Linked DNA regions of Homo sapiens. The protein of the gene in region 1 interacts with the protein of each later gene in a biochemical or structural test. Each region holds a gene or a part of one and is shown in the gene's direction. Other genes may lie near its edges.

Region 1 (7,029 bases):
CAGTGACGCACACACAACTCCTGATTCCAAAAATCTGCTACAGGAAGCCCGCTGCCTCTGCCATTAGACCAGTTTCCTTCCCCAGGCTCCCTGGTTATGTTATGTAAATCTCAGTTTCAATTCCAAAATTTTAATGTACATCTTAGAAAGGTAGGAAAATATTCATATGAGTATTTCTAATTCAGCAACAGCTCAGAACTGGAAATACTGAGAGAGCTCTGCATCCCGACATCCCAGGTAGAGCCACGGGCTCAGGAAGTGTGGCCAAGTTTGGTCTAATTGGGAGCCTTGGCCTGTCTGCCCAGCGGGTCAGACCTCTGGGTTCTGGGACTATGGGCTGCCTCTCGACACAGCATGTGAAATTCATTACAAAGCACATGTGGGTTGGGAGGAGAGCAGAGACCCCCAGAACACCTGTGTGAAGGTGTCTTAGCCTGGTCCCAGGTTGCCCCTGGAATCCTGGTGCAGAAGGTGTGAAGTTGGAGGCTGAGTTCTTCACCCTCATGGCCAGGACCTAATCCGACCTGGGCCCCAGCCCCTTCTTGCTCTCTCTCCTGGAGGTTGGAAACATCAAAGTTAAATATTCATATTCCCAATACTGGAAGTTTCTTGCTTCAAGGAAAAATTGCTTGACAACCTCTTCAAAAGTTCATGCTCTTTAGTGTCTCCTAAAAAAACCACCACCCTCACCCTCGGTAACCGATTCGTATCAGTCCTTCCCTCCCAAGCAGCTGTGAGCTATCCATGAATTGACTTGGTTTAGTTACTTTTGCTAACATCTCCCTCCCACCCCAGGCTGTTCCTGGCCCCGGGGGCGAGGCGCTGGATCAACATAGATGGCAAAACCATGGACATCACAGTGAAGGGGCTGAAGCACCCCCACCGCTATGTGCTGGACGCCGCACAAACCCACATTTACATGCTCATGAAGAAGGTAGGTGGGTCCGTGCTGTGGATACGGGGTCCAGATAGGCTTTCTGTCACTAAGTACCCGGAAAATTCTTTAGATATAGGAAAAAGAGAGAGGATACGTGGATAGAGCTTTGCCGGTTGTGGCATGCAGCTAAGCATGGGGGCTCATGTCTGTAATCCCAGCTCTTTGGGAAGCTGAGATGGGAGGATATCTTGAGCCCAGAAGTTTGAGACCAGCCTGGGCAACACAGTGAGACCCTGTCTTTATATAAAAAAGAAAGAGAGAGAAAGAGAAAAACCCCAGAATTGTCAACCGTCTCTTCCACCTGTCCACTGGGGTGGACTTGCCTTGAGCCCCTCACCCACGGGCCTAGAGGAACTCCTGTAGAAGCTGTGTGCATCCTTACGGGCCCCACTCTGCAGCAGTAGACAGGTAGGAGTAATGGCATTAGTAATGACAACATTATAATAACAGCCATCATTCGTTGAGGGCTTACAAGGTGCAGTCGCTGTGCGAAACACAGAACTTTATGCTCAAAGACAGCCCACAAGTTAGGCTTTGCTGCTCCAGAATCTAGTGGCTTGGTCAAGGTCTCACCAGAGATGGGGCTGGGATTCATAGCCAGGTCTGCCTGGGTTTCAAGGCCGAGCTCTTAGTTTCTGCTGCAGAGTGATGGCAATTCTCACCACCCTGGCCCCAGGCAAATATTACACATAGAGGCGTAGTGTCTAGGAGAGACAAATTTGTGTGTGTGTGATTGTAGTAAGACCCTGTGAGAATTTAGATAGCCCTCTGGATTATTAACAAAGTGCGAATGCGGTGGGAATTTAAAAAAAAATATGTGAAGGGTACCTGAGAGAAAAATCAATCATTTTCTTAAGAAACTAGAATCGGAGGCTCAGAGTTAGCCTTAAAGAACTTGTCTAGTTTGATTCTTCTTTGGTGCCATCCTTGACAAGACTTTCTTTGGGTGCTTCAACTTCTCATTATGGCAATGATTTCTTTAAGGGCAAAGTATCTTTATAGGATATAGGTTATGTGATATAGGCTATTTGATATAGGTTATGTGATATAGGTTATATGAGATAGATTATGTGATATAGGTTATGGATATTGGTTATGTGATACAGGTTATGTGATATAGACCATCTGATATAGGTTATATGAGATAGATTATATGACATAGGTTGCGTGATATAGCTTATATGAGATAGACTATGTCATACAGGTTATATGATATAGGTTATGTGATATAGGCTATTTGATATAGGTTATATGATATAGGTTATATGAGATTATATGACATAGGTTACATGATGTAGGTTATATGATATAGGTTATAATGTGATATAGGCTATCTGATATAGGTTATGTGATATAGGCTATATGAGATAGATTATATGATATGAGTTATATGTTATAGATTGTAATGTGTTATAGGCTATCTGATGTAGGTCATGTGATATAGGTTATATGATATACATTATATGATATAGGTTATGTGATATAGATTATGTAATATAGGTTATATGATATAGATTATATGATATAGGTTATGTGATATTGGTTATGTGATATAGATTATGTGGTATCAGTTATGTGATATAGGTTATATAATATAGGTTGTGTGATATAGGCTATCTGATATAGGTTATGTGATATAGGTTATATGATATAGATTATATGATGTAGGTTACATGATGTGGGTTATATGAGATAGGTTATATGATGTGGTTTATATGATATAGGCTATGTGATATAGGCTGTGTGATATAGGTTATGTGATATAGGTTATATGATATAGGTTATGTATATAGGTTTGTGTGAATGGTAAATGCTGATTAGCTTTCCTGATTTATATTTCTTCTATTTAGTCTTTTATTGTATCATTTAAAAGTATTTTTACTTTGTTTTTAAAGCATGTAATAATTTAGAATTGCCGCCAAGCCAGATTAGCCATTTTCATCATTTTTTGAATCAGTGGGGTGTTTCTGTGTGTTTTGAATCAGTGGCTGTCTCTTTGTTTTTGTTACTAGACGATTCACAGCAGGGTTTCTTTAATAATAATCCTCTTTAATGTATTTTAAAACGTTTTGGTTCTTAAAAATGTAGTTTTCGGCTGGGCGCAGTGGCTCACGCCTGTAATCCCAGTACTTTGGAAGGCTGAGGTGGGCAGATCACGAGGTCGGGAGTTTGAGACCAGCCTGGCCAACATGGTGAAACCCCGTCTCTACCAAAAATACAAAAATTAGCTGGGCGTGGTGGTGGATGCCTGTAATCTTGCTACCCAGGAGGCTGAGGCAGGAGAATCACTTGAACCTGGGAGGTGGAGGTTGCAGTGAGTTGAGATCGTGCCACTGCAATCCGGCCTGGGCGAAAGAGTGAAACTCCGTCTCAAAAAACAAACAAACAAACAAACAAAAAAACCTGTAGTTTTCATACGGCTTTTTAGGGGATGCCCAGGGAGGCCAGTTACTAGCCAGAATGGAACAGTCATTGGTAACTGCAGAAAAGAATGGCATATATGCCCACTGGACTCCCTATATGCCATTACAGCTATGTCCTATGGTGAAACACTCAACGTATCCCAGTGGCTCCATGGTCCCTATTCCTAGACTCTATCCTAGTTCTCATAACTTTTACTGCTCCCACTTAGTCTTTAGAATAGTGCCATTTCAATAAATTTTTAAAATACCTCAATCCCTGGTTTGTTGCAGTGGCCTTTGTCCCATATTGGGTATGACTAGAGTTTTCCGCTCGCTTAAAAGTAACGAGCATTCATGAAGCTTCTCTGAAATTGCCCAGAGTCCCAGTAAACAGCCCCATAACTGGACTCTACGCGTTGGTTGTTTTTGTTTTTGCTTTGGTATTCTCTTGCCTTTACACCCAAAACACAGGGCAGAAAGGGATGTCAATGGCTTAGAAGTGGGCTCCATACTCCTGGCTGCTCATCTTCCTTGGAAGAAAGTCTTGGAGAGGAGAGGTCAGATGTGCTCTTGTCTCATGCTGGCTTCACTGAACCACTCCAAGGTGGATCTTCATGTGTAGGGTTACAGACTGTAATTCTCAAACTTAAAGGTGCAGCAGAATTACCTGGAGACTGTTCAGGTAGTTGTTAATTGTTAATTGTTTAGGTGTCCTCATGTGAACAAATGATGACAGGCAATGTCTCCATACATGACCAGCTGTCTCACCTGTTTGGCATGTAGCATGCAGCATATGAGAATAAGTGAAACAAATTAAGCAGTTCTGGGTCTAGTGTACTTTTAACTGTAGCAGCTTTTATGCAACTGGCTACATTTACAACATAGGCTGAATCACAGACAATGTTGATAGGATCTGAAGCTGTGAGCTGTAAAACCTGAGACTGTTCAGGCTCAGGGTGAATCACTCCCAGAGTTTCTCATCAGGACGGCTGGGGCAGGCCTGAGAAGTTCCCAGGTGAAATTGATGCTTCTGGAGGGGACCACACTTGAGAACCACTGCTCTCAACACCTCCCCCAACACCTTTCACCCAAGGAGACAAATTCTCATAACTTTTCCATTCTACTGCCAAGGGAGGCTTGAAAATGGCAAGGGTATTGGTTTGATTTGACTGCTTTTTTCTCTCATAATTACTGTTGTTTTCTTGTTCCCACTAGGATTCTTATGCTCGCTATTTAAAATCTCCGATCTATAAGGACATGCTGGCCAAAGCTATTGAACCTCAGGAAACCACCAAGAAAAGGCAAGTGGAATTATCTGTAATTGCTGGCTGCCTGCTGCTTAGTTTACAGAGAAGTGAGGGTCTCTTTCAGCCAAATGGCTATTATGGAGATATTTGCTTGATGAAAATATTGGGGACTGGGAAGTATTGCTCAGGGAATGAGTGCCTCATTTGCTTCATAATGCCCTGAAATCACTCTAGCAAGATTTCCTTAGTAATTACCACCACTAAGTTTTGTTTCCCCTAAAGCTGGCTTGAAAGAGTTTAGAGGATCAGACCAATAATTACCCTTATCACAAATGGAAGCTTCTCCTTGGTTTTTTAACTGCTACTCGTTACCTCCAAACTGATGTATGGGAATTAATTAAGGTACATCCTTGTATTTAAATTGTTCTAAGACCTTAGAGAGAATAGCAGATTGCACCCCAAGAGAAAATGCTCAGTGAAGGGGAAACGGACAGTAACGGGCTAGGTATTCTTGCTGCCTCCGGGGACCATGTTTTAGAAGTCCATGAACTTGTTCATTCTCACTTTTCTCATTGGAGATGTGGATCATCTCATCTGGTAGAGCCATTGGGACAATGGACGAAATAATGTCCTGAGGGGCAGATTGAACTCTTTTCCGGGGGAATTCAATCTACAAGGATTGAAGATTTAAAATATAAATTGAATGGCAGCTTGAACAAAACTGTAAGGCTTTGGCAGAGGTTTTTCCACTGGCAATCGTGTGTCCTGTCCCCCCCAAAGTGAGTGACTGTTCCCCTGTTTGCTGGGTCAACCCACACTGGGCTCCTTTCCAGCATCTTCCATCAATTCAAAAGGGGGATGGCCGGACCAGAGCCTTTATCAAAGGAGAAAAAACAACAACAACAACAAAAAAAACCAACTTGGCTTCATTCTTGAGGATAATGGCCCTGTTATGAAAAGGAGAGAAAGAAGGTCTTTGTGGTGCTATTCTTCTGGGTTTACCAAGTAAGGAAGGGAGTTCAGTGCCCCTGGGGACTTAAAAGCTTCTACTTTAAGCCAGAAGAAAGGCCTGTAATAGCTCCAGTAGTTCTGCCAGAAAGTAATGAGGGGACAAAAGAGGAGTCTCATACCTCTCTCTCCAGATATTTTAGAAGTTGGGGCAGACGTGAGAATTCTCACTATTGTGAGTGAGAATTACACGTGAATGCATTCGTAAAGTGTGAAGCCTGGTCTGTGTCCATACCAGGACTACAGTGGGTGTGAATTTTGTTCCATGATCCCAGGTATAAGACAATGTATTCAAACTCAATTTTTGCATGACAAGTTACCCCTAGCTCCAAGCCTTCCTCTTGGCAGGGCTGGTGAGAAATCCAATGTCAGTGTCAGGCTTTACATCCTGGTAGGGGAGCCCTTCTTCTCCTTAAGATAGATATAAGAGTTCAAGGGGCTTATGTAGTCAAGGGGCTTATGTAGTCCAGAAATATGGAGTATGTTGCAGGTCTTTGTCTCTTATTGCTGCTGAAGTTCTTGGCTCCAAGCTTACGTGGGCCCTCAAAGGCAGGTGGGCTCCACTGCTCACTGCCCACTACATCACTTGGATACCTAGAGCTTTGTCCTGGCTCCTAAGGCCATGGCAGGGAGAGTTTGGTTCCAGGAATCCAGTTTGGCTTTGAAGAAGGTTCTGGCATGTGTCAAGATATTGCACATGAGCAGGGTACCACCAGCCCACCAGCCCTCTTCAGGCCTCTTCCCTCTTTCTCTGTTCACTGGGGCCTAGCTATTTTGGACAGTCCAGCTCTTTCCTTCCTTCCCAGAACCATAGCTTTTGAAAACAAATGCTCCAGCCAGGCGCAGTGACTCACGCCTGTAATCCCAGCACTTTGGGAGGCTGAGGCGGATGGATCAGTTGAGGTCAGGAGTTTGAGACCAGCCTGGCCAACGTGGTGAAAGCCTGCCTCTACTAAAAATATAAAAATTAGCCTGGTGTGGTAGTACATGCCTGTAGTCCCAGCTACTTGGGAGTCTGAAGCATGAGAATGGCTTGAACCTGGGAGATGGAGGTTGCAGTGAGCCGAAGTCGTGCCACTGCATTCCAGCCTCGGTGATTCAGAGAGACTCTGTCCCCGCTGCCCACCCCCCAACCGCCCCAAAAAAGAAAAGAAAATAAACAAATGCTCCAACTCTCTCCAGTACCCAAGCCTTCATTATCCACTTCTTTCATGAAGATGTTACAAAAAGTTAAGATAACAAATTGATTTCTACATACTGTAGAAGTTCAATGCAACTTCGCCAACAAAAGGGTCTTCCTTGTGCCTGACCTAAAATCTGATGGCAGTTGGTACTCACTCTGGTCTCATCCTCCAAGTGGGGAGAAAGGAGCCAAGGTTGGACCCCACTGGAGGTTCACTGGAAAAAGGAGGGAACAAAATATAGATTCTGGACC
Region 2 (7,081 bases), on another chromosome or scaffold:
GGAATGTAAAATGATACAGCTGCTGTGGAAAACAGTATGGTAGTACCTCAAAAAATTAGAAACAGAATTACCACATGAACCAGCAATTCCATTTCTGGATATATATCTAAAAGAGCTGAAAACAGGATCTCAAAAAGATATCTGAACACCTATGTTCATAGCAGTGTCATGCACAATAGCTAAAATGTGAAAGTAATTTAAGTGTCATCCATAGATGAACAGAAAAGCAAAATGTGGTACAATTGAATATTATTCAGCCTTGAAAAGAAAGAAAATTCTGACATATACTTCAATATCAATGAATTTTGAGAACATTATGCTAAGTGAAATAAGCCAGTCTGAAAAAGACAAATATAGTAGGATTCCACTTATATGAGGTACTTAGAGAATCGCTTAAACCTGGTAGGCTGAGGTTGCAGGGAGCCGAGATTGCACCACTGCACTGCAGCCTGGGTGACAGACGGAGACTCTGTCTCAAAAAACAGAAAAAGAAAAAAAGAAAAAATTAGATGATGATGGAGGGTAGTAAAAAACAGGAAGAAAATAGGTCGAAAAGTTAAGATAGAAGTAGAAAAGGGAGGTAACATGCAAGCACACAGAAGGGTAGATGCAGATATAAAAAACCACTATCATTTATTTATTTCCTTCCTTACTATTACTCTGCTACCTATAATGAGTGATTTGGTACAAATCTGATTGATTGAGAAGCCTCCTTCTGTTATTTCCTGCCATTCTCTTGTAGAAAGGAAGAAAGTGGTGCTCAATATTAGATAATAATAAGTGAGTTGAACTATTTTTCTTTCAAGAACTGTATTACAGCAGCAGAATGAATTCAAACATAAAACCTAACACTTTCTCAGATGGTTCTCATCTATCACCAGATCTCATTGGAGAGGAACAGGGGCTAAGGTTGAGAAGAAATAACCATACTACTGGACCACTCACTGCATTTGCCAACTTTCATTTACACTTTTACAACTTGAGGTCTGATTCCAGTGAAAAACATACTGAGAGGCTCTTGTTCAGACCAGATCAGTATCATGCAGTTTAAGATCATCATGATAATCAAATCTTCCAGTTCACAGTAAGGAATGCCAGTTATAATAAGACATGGAAACAAAATGTTCCTTTATTCATATAGGTCCTGCAAATTGCCTCCCCATAATGCTTCATTTAGTCTCCATACTGTCCTAGTGAGTGGGAACTCAGTGGGGGTTTAAAGTGGTGTACTCAATGGTCGGTGCTCAAGGCAAGGTTTCTTGTATCATTCCCTGGAACAGCATTTCAAAGACAAGAAGAGAATAGTCCCACCACAAACTTCACATCAATTTCCTTTCAAACAAAATCACTGAGTAACCATATGTATCAGAAGCCCACCATCTCTCTTCTCTTGCTCTAGACTTGCCACTTCAAGTTGAAAACATAAAGACTTTCCCTGATGAAGGGCCATTGGCTAGTACATGAGAATGTTCCAGCCATGCTATTGAGATGGAGTTTCTGGAAGGAAGATGAAAAAAATGATCTATATTTTTCTTGATTTCTGCCCAGGCATATCTCTTCTGTAGGCATCTTGGAGTTCTTCCCAGAAGGCATATCTCAATGCCAATCATGAATAAGGGTTCCACTTACTTAAAAGAATAAAATTGTTTGTTGTTGTATGAATGGGAAGTGCCAGATAAAAGGAGCAATTGCTAATCTTCACCTATAGTGAAGTCCAGAGAGAAAGGATCACTTCATTTACCCTGCTTCTCTTCTATTTCCACACCAATCCCTCCCCATTCACCACGGGGGTCAAGGAGTCTACCAGAGACAGCTAAGTCAGAACAGAGTTGACTGCCTAGATGTGTGATTTTAGGCATGTCAGTTAATTTTCCTGTCTCTTGTTCCTACACAGAATTAGAGTCTATATCACTCTTTATCTTCCTTTTACTTTTGCCAAAGGAAGGCACTAAAAACATGCTGAGGAATATCTTGCCAGCATTTACAACTGCCCTTGAAGAGAGAATATGTGTTCTCAACACAGAAAGTTAGAAATAGGGTTCTTCCTACTACATTCACGCATTATCAAGATAGCATTATCATTAGGCACAATGTCTTCAAATGTTAAAGAAAATAAACATAGGATACTGAAACGTGAAAACCATGTTGCTGAAAATGAGTGATATGAGGTTCTTAACTCCTTAGAAGGCCTTTGCTTCATTCTGCTCACATAACAGCCTGACATTACTCCCTGCTTTTATATGTCAGACAAGCCAAGTTTTAGCAGTGCATATTCTCTTGGTCCCCTTATCCAAGGGAAGAAAAGCCTTGGAGTTCACATTCAACCCAGGAGTTCTAGTCTTAGGGCATGTTCAATATAGTTATGTCATATAACTAATACATTTATGCCCAATAAGTTATGGGCAACCTTGGATATGGAACCTAACCTCTCTAACCCTCTGTATTAGTTTGCTAGGGATGCCATAACAAAATTCCACAGGCTAGGTGAATTAAACAAGAGAAATTTATTTTTGCACAGTTTTGAAGGGTAGAAATCCAAAATCAACAGGGTGGCAGGTTTGGTTTCTCCTGCAAGACCCCTCTCCTTGGCTTGCAGACAGATGCCATCTTCCTGTGTCCTTTCCTCTGTGTGCACATTTCTGGTGCCTCTTCTTTTTCTTATAGGAAACCAGTCATATTGGATTAGGGCGTACCCTCCAGGCCCCATTTTAACTTAACTCACACTTCAAAGATCTTACATCCAAATACAGTCATGTTCTAAGGTTAGGGCTTCAACACTTGAATTTTGGAATGACACAATTTAGTCCATAACAGCCTCTATAAAGATGGCATCATGAAGACTGATGTAATATAATTTACAGAATGATTTCTAAATCATCTAAATGATTTCTAAATATAATTATATACAAATGTATTATTAATATTATTATTACTGTCATAATTATTATTCTCTCTGACATATTATCAGTCTTTTGGGAAGTTTAAATTTTCTTCTTTTGGAAGACTATACCATAGTGGTTAAGAGAATTAGGTTGTTTAGATCCAAATCTTGGGTCAGCCACTTGTTAGCTGTGTGACTTTCAGACATTATACTAACCTCCATAAGCTTTAATTTTCCTATCCATAAATTAAGGATGGTAAAAAATAGTACCTGCCTTGTAGGGTTGTTGAAAGGATTAAAAGGAGCAATGCATTAAAATGACTGGCTAAAAGTACATGCTCAATAAATGATGGTTGTTATCAATAGCAGTATTTAGACCTTGTTGATGCTGCTGCCTTCTTTCTCAGCCAGCAGAGGTCTCCATCATAGTCAAACAAGAGCTAGCTTCCCTATAACTGCACCGCAGTTGCCAAGCACATCCACTGTTGGCAGAGAAAACAGCCGAAGAATTACCACACTGACCAAACAGAGGAGAAAAAAAAGAGAGAGAGAACAGGAAATGGTTAGGATGCCACAGTAAAATGTAAGATGAACAGGTGACCATAAGTTAGGATTGTTTATGTTCTACTGCTGACTTTCACTGATATTGTCCTTGGTTGCATCTCACTTTAGCTTGTTCCAAACCAGTTTTAAAAAAGGTATCTATGTATATATCACAGAGAAGCAGTAAGAATGAATTGGCAAATATTTATGAAGTCCTCTGAAAACAAGAAGTGCTGCTAAGTAAACATTTAACATTTCTTACAGTATTAAGCTTATTTCATCCTTATTGCCAGTTATACGCCATGCCTCAGTTTTGCTACCTTTGTAATATGTTTCCTTTAACCTTCTTTTCCCAGACAGGCTTACACCTCCAAGTTCAATTATCCTGTCAATTGTGTTTTAAATTGTACTGATTTCCATTAACCAATTGTGGTATCAATTTGATGATCTGTTCCTTCTGAACTAATCATCTTTACACCCACCAAAATCTGGAAAGGCAATTAAACTGAGGAAGGTGAGAGTTATTCAAGAGAAATTAAAGCATAAAGGTAAAAACAGTGGAAAAACTAAGATTAAAAAGAGCACTGAGGAGAAAATATACATGTACTAAAAAGCACAGTATCCGAGCAGATAGAGAGACAAAGAGGAAAAGAGAGCGAGGTAGAAAACGGATACTGCCTATGCCTACTCCATCCCTCTTTCAGCACCAAGGACAGAACCTCTGAGCGGCTGACCCAAGCAACGCTCAGTTTAGGGTCCCTCCCAAATCCTCTAAAGAAAACGGATACATTCGAAAGCAGCTATGAAACATGCACTAAGGTCTAATAGGGAAGCTGGAAAAGCAGCACTCAAGTAATTTCACCTTAGAGGCAAAAATGGGTGATTTCTTTCTGTTCATTTCATAGTTTCTGAGTCCTGAGAAAGGCAAAGTTTGCTTTGCTTGGGTATGTCTGCTGTCAGTAAATGGCTGCAGGAGCCGAAGTGGTAAACTCCTCGGTCTCCAGAAATCAGAAGAAAATTTTAGGGTAAGTAATTTTTCTTTTCGTTTCTAATTTAGGACATAGTATTTTCCTCAAGGTTATTTAATCAGCTTGGGGTTCTGTGGATCTCTAAAAATATGCATTAAAACTCAATATCCACTCTTATTTAAAAACCAAAGCCCTGAGGAAATGGTTTTCTTTTTCTTCTAAGTGGTTGGACAGCAGAAACCTTTTATATTCCTTTTTCTTTTATTTTTTCCCCCAAAATTGTATCCTTGTGGGCTCTAGAAGCTATATCAAGGAAGAATTAAAAGATAGAAAACAAAAAGCTGTTATTATTTCTAGGATTTGTATGGAAGTTGATTGTATTCCTCTTAAGGATTTTACTTAATTGTAAGGGTCTGTTATTTTAAACTCCTCAATTCAGCACCCTGGCAATTCAGAGCTGAAGGTTTGGAGAGGCACTATTTTCAATGGTCTATTTAAAGTCAGGCTGTTTCTAAGTCAGAATCCAATTATTCCCAGCAGAGATATGTAGTACTTGAGATGATGATTGTGTATGTTTCCTTTGATGATGGTATATGATTTTTAGGGTATTGTTATTTAATTGTGAGACTTCCATTACTTGCTGTAGCTTACTGGGGCAACAGAAGTCATTGCAATTAGGTATTTGTTCCAGTTCATGCATTTAGTTTAATTGAATACCATCAAAATACATGCATGAATAATAATGCAGCAATAGCAAAGTGAAACTTGGATTCTAAACTCATTGTGCATGACTATTTCACTTTATAGGTGAAGCCTTTGCTTACTGATACTAAAAGGTCTGTAAAATATCTGTCCTTAGATAAGAGTGAAGAACCACTGCTTGACATGGCATTAGGATGTCTTATAGTCAAGGAGAAGTAGAGACAATGTGAGAAAGATTCTTACTCGGCACTCATTTATTTGTAGTTGAATATTTTCAAGGGTCTGTATGGCTAGCAGTGAGCAAGGGTATTGAGCAAGGAAAATACTGACAGTATCCAAATGGGTGCCTAATATTAAAGCATCCATACAGAAGGCTATTTGTTATGGAATATACATTAAAGCAAATACCGAACAGTTTCTACTCAATATCAGATTCAATTTCTAATGCATTGAAGTTTGTCATCAATTAATATTTGCTTATTGATTGATTTATTTGCTGAGTTCCCCATTTTATCTCTGATTAGAATGGTAGGATGCTCAGTCTCTAGAGGTTGTGAAGGAAAGTGAGTATGCTCTGCTTTACTAGTCAGGTTTAATGAGGGGAAAAAACTGTTATCTTAGCTACTCAGTAACCAGCAATAGTTTTTCTCTGTACATTTACCAACAATGTAAATGTGCCCAAATACATAAATATGCTATGTATTGCAATCCATTTGTGAATCTTTTTCAGGAAAATAGGCAGCAATTTGCAAGAAGAAAGTAGCATAGAAATGCTAAAGACTATCTCTAATAATAATAACAATGTAACTCCCACTGGCTCTATGAGCAGTGTGCACCTGCATTACTTCACCAAGCCTAGTCAGATGATGTGACATGTTCACATACTCTGAACAAGTGAGATTGTAAAATTAGTACCCATTTCACATTTGTCTGCCTCACCCCAAAAAGTGGCATAGTTAAGTGGCATAGTTAAGAACATGAGCTCTGGAATCAGACAAATCTTGGGTTGAATCAACTCCATCATTTACTGGTTTGTGATCTCAGCAAGATATTTAACCTCTCTGTGACTCACCTTTTTTATCTAGAAAACTTGATAGGATAATAGTGCTTACCTTCTTCATCAGGTTGTTGTGAGGTTGAATGATGATAATGCTTATAAATTTTAGCTATAATTATTAATTTTATCAGGCAATATAGCAAGTCCGAATTACAGCCCAGACCAGAAAAGCTCTGGCGACTGGTGGTCAGGAGTCGTCTGAGTAAAAGATTAGATGTAGCAACAGCCAGAGATCTGTGAAATGAGTGAAGATGTGGTCATGGAACCCTGTTACTGAAGCGTTTTGTTCTGGGTTGAGTAAAATCCATCTCAACTCGGGAATGACAGTTTTGTGGGTTTTTTTTTACTTTGAGACAGGATCTTGCTCTGTCACCCAGGCTGGAGTGCAGTGGCACAATTATAGTTCACTGCAGCCTCTAACTCCTGGACTCAAGCAATCTTCCTGCCTCAGTCTTTCGAGTAGCTGGGAATACAGGCACATGGCATCACACGCAGCTAATTTTTCTTTTCTTTTATTTTTGCAAAGATGGAGTCTCACTATGTTGCCCAGGCTGATCTCAAACTCCTGGCCTCAAGTGATCCTTCCATCTCAGCCTCCCAAAGTGCTGGGATTACAGGAATGAGCCCCCAAGCAGGGCTGGGAATGACTAACGTCAACTTCCATGCTGCTATAAGTATTAAAATGCATGTAAAGTACTCATACTTGCCACACAGTAGTAGCCCAGATGTAGTTGTCTTCATCTTCATTTGTTTTCTTACAGAAAGAGAACAAATAATTAAAACTCTGTAAGTCTTAATGAGGTGCTAAGGAGGAACCCCACGAATGTTTCAGGAAGACTGTTATTCAGCACTGAGGGATTGAACATCAGCAAAGCAGGACAAATGTCATAACTGATGGGGACCTGACAACTCTCTGTTCCCCTGCCTTTT

The links.
Region 2: the proteins of RGS9 (region 1) and DRD3 form a complex in vitro, tested with the Homo sapiens proteins (one study listed by BioGRID).

The regions. Positions count from the first base shown.
Region 1 is NC_000017.11:65,203,368-65,210,396, forward strand, and holds part of RGS9 (regulator of G-protein signaling 9), read left to right. Parts: intron 1-795; coding exon 796-934; intron 935-4,554; coding exon 4,555-4,640; intron 4,641-7,029. UniProt on the Homo sapiens protein: Inhibits signal transduction by increasing the GTPase activity of G protein alpha subunits thereby driving them into their inactive GDP-bound form. Binds to GNAT1. Involved in phototransduction; key element in the recovery phase of visual transduction.
Region 2 is NC_000003.12:114,176,025-114,183,105, reverse strand, and holds the start of DRD3 (D(3) dopamine receptor), read left to right. Parts: upstream 1-4,053; 5' UTR 4,054-4,449; intron 4,450-6,912; exon of another isoform or gene 6,913-7,081. UniProt on the Homo sapiens protein: Dopamine receptor whose activity is mediated by G proteins which inhibit adenylyl cyclase. Promotes cell proliferation.